Linked DNA regions of Homo sapiens: region 1 is linked to region 2. The links come from fine-mapping of genetic effects on gene expression. A gene starts in region 2. The other region holds a variant in brackets. All regions are shown on one strand. Distances are from middle to middle. Region 1 has its middle 46 kb from the start of LINC01068. Region 2 holds the start of NDFIP2 (Nedd4 family interacting protein 2).

What was found. PIP is the estimated chance that this variant, and not a neighbour inherited with it, causes the effect. A credible set is the group of variants that fine-mapping cannot tell apart.
Region 1: its variant is the best candidate, but not a certain one, in a credible set for the expression of NDFIP2 in testis (GTEx, PIP 0.55).

What each region holds. Positions count from the first base shown.
Region 1 is chr13:79,611,230-79,614,145 of GRCh38, forward strand. No RefSeq gene overlaps it. Among named protein-coding and RNA genes, the nearest start is that of LINC01068, 46 kb to the left of the region's middle. The variant C/T (reference allele first, on the strand shown) is at 1,451.
Region 2 is chr13:79,479,739-79,482,654 of GRCh38, forward strand. It overlaps NDFIP2 (Nedd4 family interacting protein 2), which reads left to right and starts at 1,417. Exons shown (of 8, transcript NM_019080.3): 1 at 1,417-1,786. The coding sequence starts at 1,466. It overlaps NDFIP2-AS1 (NDFIP2 antisense RNA 1), which reads right to left and starts at 1,493. Exons shown (of 3, transcript NR_046685.1): 1 at 1,414-1,493; 2 at 98-192.

The DNA of each region.
Region 1 (2,916 bases), 130 kb after region 2:
GGCTATTTACATTCAATATCAGTATTGAGGTGTGAGGTACCATTCCACTCATCATGCTATTGGTTGCCTGTATACCTTTTTTTTAATTGTATTTTTGTTTTATAGGTCCTGTGAGATTTATGCTTTAAAGAGGTTCTGTTTTGATGTGTTTCCAGGATTTGTTTCAAGATTTAGAGGTCATTTTAGTAGTTCTTGTGGTGCTGGCTTAGTAGTGGCACATCCTCTCAATATTTGTTTGTCTGAAAAAGACTGCATCTTTCCTTCATTTATGAAGTTTAGTTTCACTGGGTACAAAATTCTTGGATGATAATTGTTTTGTCTGAGGAGGCTGAAGATAGGGCCCCAATCCCTTCTAGCTTGTAGGGTTTCTGCTGAGAAATCTGCTGTTAATCTTACAGGTTTTTCTTTATAGGTTACCTGGTGTTTTTGCCTCACAGCTCTTAAGATTCTTTCCTTTGTCTTAACTTTATATAACAGATGGAAGTGTGCCTAGGCGATGATCTTTTTGTGATGAATTTCCCAGGTGTTCTTTGAGGTTCTTGTATTTGGAAGTTTTAGTTCTCTAGCAAGGCAGGGGAAGACTTCTCAATCAGTTCAAGTTGTTATAAAGTTCAATTGGAGGTTTTCTTCTCCCTGTGGCCTTTCCCCAGTGCCTCTGGAAGCCATCCTTAAGGACGCCTGTGAGGTGAGGCAGAAATGGCTTGCTAGAGGACCCAGAAGGCCCACAGGGATTTTTCCACTGCTTCCTCTACCCCTGTATTTCACTCAGCTCTCTAAATCAACTCAGCTTCAGGTAACATCAGAATCTTCTCCTGTAGTCTACACCTTCAAGTTCCCCAGTGAGAGTGTGTGTTCAGGAGTGGACAATATCCCTTTTTCACTTCCACTGTTTGAGCACTCAAAGCATTTGGGATGTCTCCTGGGTCCTGCAGGAGCAATCTGCTTCCTTCAGAGGGTCTGTGTGTTCTCTTGGCTTTCCTAATGTATTCCTGCAGTTGCTCTGCAGTCAAAGTTCATGCTGAAAGCCTCCATGTGCTGTTCTGTGCACCTGAGTGGGAGCTTAAATCTAGTCCTGCCTCCCATCTGCCATGATCTCTCCATCTAGAAGTTAGTTTTGCAGGCTGGGAAGTCCAAGATCAAGAGGTTAGCATATTTGGTTTCTAGTGAGGGCTCAGTCTCTGCTTCATAAATGGCACCTTGTAGCTATGTCCTCCCATGGGGAAAGGACCAACCCCACATTTCCCTTCCATACAGCCCTAACAGAGGTTCTTCATGAGGCCAGCCCACCTCCCCCCACCCCGTGCCCCACAGCAAACTTCTGCCTGTACATCCAAGAGTTTCCATACATCCTCTGAAATCTAGGCAGAGGTTCCAAAACCTCAATTCTTGATTTCTGTATATCTGCAGGCTCAACACCACATGGAAGCTGCCAAGGCTTGGGGCTTGTACC[C/T]TCTGAAGTCATGGCCTGAGTGGTACCTTGTCCCTTTTAGCATGGATGGAGCAGCTGGAACACAGGGCACCAACTCCCTAGGCTGTACACAGTGGTGGGCCCTGGGCCTGACCCATGAAACCAGTTTTTCCTCCTAGGCCTCCGGGCCTGTGATGGGAGGGGCTGCCATGAAGGTCTCTGATGTGCCCTGGATACATTTTCCCCATTGTTTTGGCGATTAACATTTGGCTCCTCATTATTTATGCAAATTCCTGCAGCTGGCTTGGATTTCTTCTCAGAAAATGGCTTTTTCTTTTCTATCACATCATCAGTTTGCAAATTTTTGAACTTTTATGCTCTGCTTCATTTTTAAACACAAATTCCAATTGTAAACCATATCTTTGTGAATACATAAAACTGAATGATTTTAATAGCACCCAAGTCATCTCTTGAACACTTTGCTGCTTAAAAATTTCTTTTGCCAGATGCCCTAACTCATCTCTCTCAAGTTCAAAGTTCCACACATTTCTAGGGCAGGGGCAAAATGCTAAAGGATTTTGCTAAAATGTTATGCTCTTTGCTAAAGCATAACAAGGGTCACTTTTACTCCAGTTCCCAATAAGTTCCTCTTTTCCATCTGAGACCACCTCAACCTGGACTTTATTGTTCATATCATTGTCAATATTTTGGTCAAAACTATTCAACAAGTCTCTAGGAAGTTCCAAATTTTCCTACTTTTTTTGTCTTATTCCGAGCACTTAGAACTGTTCCAACCTCTACCTGTTACCCAGTTCCAAAGTCATTTCCACAATTTTGGAACAGCAGCTCCCCACTCTTTCGATACTACTTTACTGTATTAGTCTGTTCTCATGCTGCTAACAAAGACATACCTGAGACTGGTTTATTTATAAAGGAACGAGGTTTAATGGATTCACAGTTCCACATGACTGGGGGTGGTCTCACAATCATGGTGGAAGGCAGAGGAGAAGCAGAGGCACATCTTACATGCCAGCAGGGAAGAGAGCTTATGCAGGGAAACTTCCATTTATAAATCCATCACATCTTGTGAGACTTATTTACTATCATGAGAATAGTATGAGAGAAACCACCCCCATGATTCAATTATCTCCACCTGACCCTGCCCTTGAAATATGGGGATTATTGACATTCAAGGTGAGATTTGGGTGGGGACACTGTCAGACTGTATCATTGGCTTTTTGTCTCTCTTTTTGGCTCGCCCCTTCTGGTGAAGCAAGCTGCAATGTTTTGAGATGCTCTATGGAGAGATCTGTGATCTATATCCAAGGAACTAGACGTGGCCTTTGGCCAATAGCCAGTGAATAATGAGGCCCTCACACATACAGCCCACAATGAACTGAATCCTATGAACTACCGCATGAGTGAGTTTGGAACAGGATCTCCCTAAGTTGAGCACTGAGATGACTTGCAGCCCTATGCAATTGCTTGAATGACACCCTGACACAGAG
Region 2 (2,916 bases):
GAACTATGAGGAAGGCTTACATTTTTTAGTTGTCAATCTCTCAAAGAGTTTCTGTTTTTATTCTATCTTGCTATTTTAACCAGTTGATTAGGCTCACCCAGTGGCAGTCTTCATTTCAAGGATCTCCTCTGGACATTCATGAAGGAAATAAATGGGGCTCCAGATCCCTTTCCTTCCCTTCAGGGCGCTCCACTGTAAGATCATTTAGGGAAAATGTGGTGTTATGTTAAAAACATAGCTGGGCCACATCAAGCAGCATCATAGTTTTTAGGGTATAGAACGTTGGTCTTCAGGTTAAAAGGTACTTTTCGCTGCTCTGTCATACTCTTCTACTTGCTAGAGAAATATGCTTTATGCCGTGTCATGTGTGGTTAACCAGACAGTGAGATACTACTAACAGTGCTCCCAAGTGATTCCTTGCTGTTAAATCAATTGGAATTATTGAGTATTACCACAAAATAATCCTATCTGATTTCATTACTTTCTTCTAACGTCCTTCCAGTAACCTAGAACTCTAGAGACCTCTTTCTTTGAGAGTTGTCTGGAGAGTCCGTTGGATTTTTAAATCTCTTATTACCAAAAAGTGGAAAAAAGAGTTTAAAAAGTAACCAAAGAGCTAGTGCCTGTAGTCTCAGCTACTCCAGAGGCTGAGGCAGGTGGATAGCTTGGGCCGAGGAGTTCGAGGCTACAGTGAGCCATGACTGCGCCTGCTAACAGCCACTGCACTCCAGTCTGGGCAATATAGTGAGACCCCATCTCTAAAAAAACAACAAACAAAAACAAAAATTACCCCACAGAAGAATTTCAGGGCAGTGGAAATACTCTGTAGGATACTATAATGATGGATACCTGCCATTACACATTTGTTCTAACTCGAGGAGTATACAACAACCTGAGTGAACCCTGAGGTAACTATGGACTTTGAGTGATGATGAGGTGTCAATGCAGGTTCATCAGTCGTAACACATGTACCACTCTGAGGGGGGATGTTGATAATGGTGGGGGGTTATGCATGCGTAGGAGCCAAGTGTATATGGGATATCTCTGTAACTTCTCAATTTTTCTGTAAACTCTAACTACTCTATATTAGTCTTTAAAAAATCGCTTATCTTACGAATGATTTTGAATAAGCGTTTTGGGAATGTTCTAGAGATGAATCTCCTCCCCATGTCCTACGCTGGGTGAGGAAGTGTCGGGTACCCGGGCGACCTGTCCTCAGGTGTTCTAGGAACGCGGCCCCATCCCTTGTCAGCCTCTGTCTCTGTGTGGTGAGAAGGCGCACTGGCTCGTGCCTGCGCGAAACTCGCGCACACAGAAAAGACCAATCAAGGACGGGTCATTCCCGCCCCCCGCGCGCCTTTTGCGACCGCCCACTCGACAGGTTGACAACCTAGACAGCTCCCCCGGACTTGCCTTACTTTTCCATCTCCTCCCACCCAGCTATACCCTCCCACTGGCGGCGCGGATGGCACGCCGGCGGAGCCAGCGAGTCTGCGCGAGCGGTCCGAGCATGCTCAATAGCGCGCGCGGCGCCCCGGAGCTTCTCCGCGGAACCGCGACCAACGCGGAGGTCTCGGCGGCCGCTGCGGGAGCCACAGGAAGTGAAGAGCTTCCGCCGGGAGACCGCGGCTGCAGGAACGGAGGCGGAAGGGGCCCTGCGGCGACGACGTCGTCGACGGGGGTGGCCGTGGGAGCTGAGCACGGAGAAGACTCCCTCTCTCGGAAGCCGGATCCCGAGCCGGGCAGGATGGATCACCACCAGCCGGGGACTGGGCGCTACCAGGTGGTGAGTTCCCGGCCTCCTGTGCCTCCCGGGACTGCCTCCCGCCGCGGCGTCCCGAGAGTCCCTTTCCTCAGGTTATTCCCGGAGGAAAAGCTGTGGCTTTTTTTTGTTGTGTTTTGTTTTGTTTTTTTGGATCTTCTGGCTGGAGCTGCTTCACTCGCCTCACCTGCGCACTCCTGCCTAGGACTCCTTCGAAACCCTTCTCTCTCGCCCCAAGTCTGCTTAGCTCCTCACCCGCACCCTTAGCCCCGCTGTGAGACGCCCTCCCTCCACACACCTTACAACTTGTATCCGTTTTAATTTCTCACTTTATCATTTTCTTATTCTCTGACTCAGTCACTCCTGAGACATTCTAGTCGATTGTCTACTGGAAATGGGGCTGACTTCACATACCTGCCCGGAAGGTGATCGCCGTCATAAATGGGGTGGGTGAGTAGGTGGGTGGAGGTGTAAGTACTGCGTGGGGTGGGATGTGGATTTGGCAAAAATGTGGGTTAGGAATTGTGGAACTGTAGAGAAAGACTAGCCATAATGCTGATCTTGTCTCTCTGCTCGTTAACCTTGTCATTTTGTCCTTTTCCATTATGTTAGTATTAAAAATGACTGTATTTTTTGGTAATCCCCACTTTTTCTTTCTTTCTTTCTTTCTTTTTTTTTTTTTTTTTTTTTTTTTTGGTTAGAGGGGAAACAGAGGTAGTTTTAGTAGAACAAATTCTAATCTTGTTTGAAAAATTATTTTTCGTTAAATACAAGGTTTTCCAGCTTAACTGTGTAAACTTTGGTAACTATGTTGAAAAAAGTGAAATGTGTTCCTCTATATTTTCAGTGTCAATTTTTAAATATATTTTTCTTTGTGTATTCTGGTGGTGACGTTGGAGATTCCTGTTGTAAACCTTAGTTAAAGATGGACTGAGCAATAGTTGACTCTGCTGTTGTGCTGTTGCAGCTAGGTAGCATGTCATTCTACAAACTTTCAGCCCATTTACTGAGGGAGAGGAGAAAAACAATACATAGCACTGGTGATGCAGTTTATGGTTTATAAAATTTTACAAATTTAGGTATGTTAGTCCCAGGTTTCAACTTTCAAATCTATTTGCACATGTAAGACAGGTTATAAGCCAAGACTTTCTATT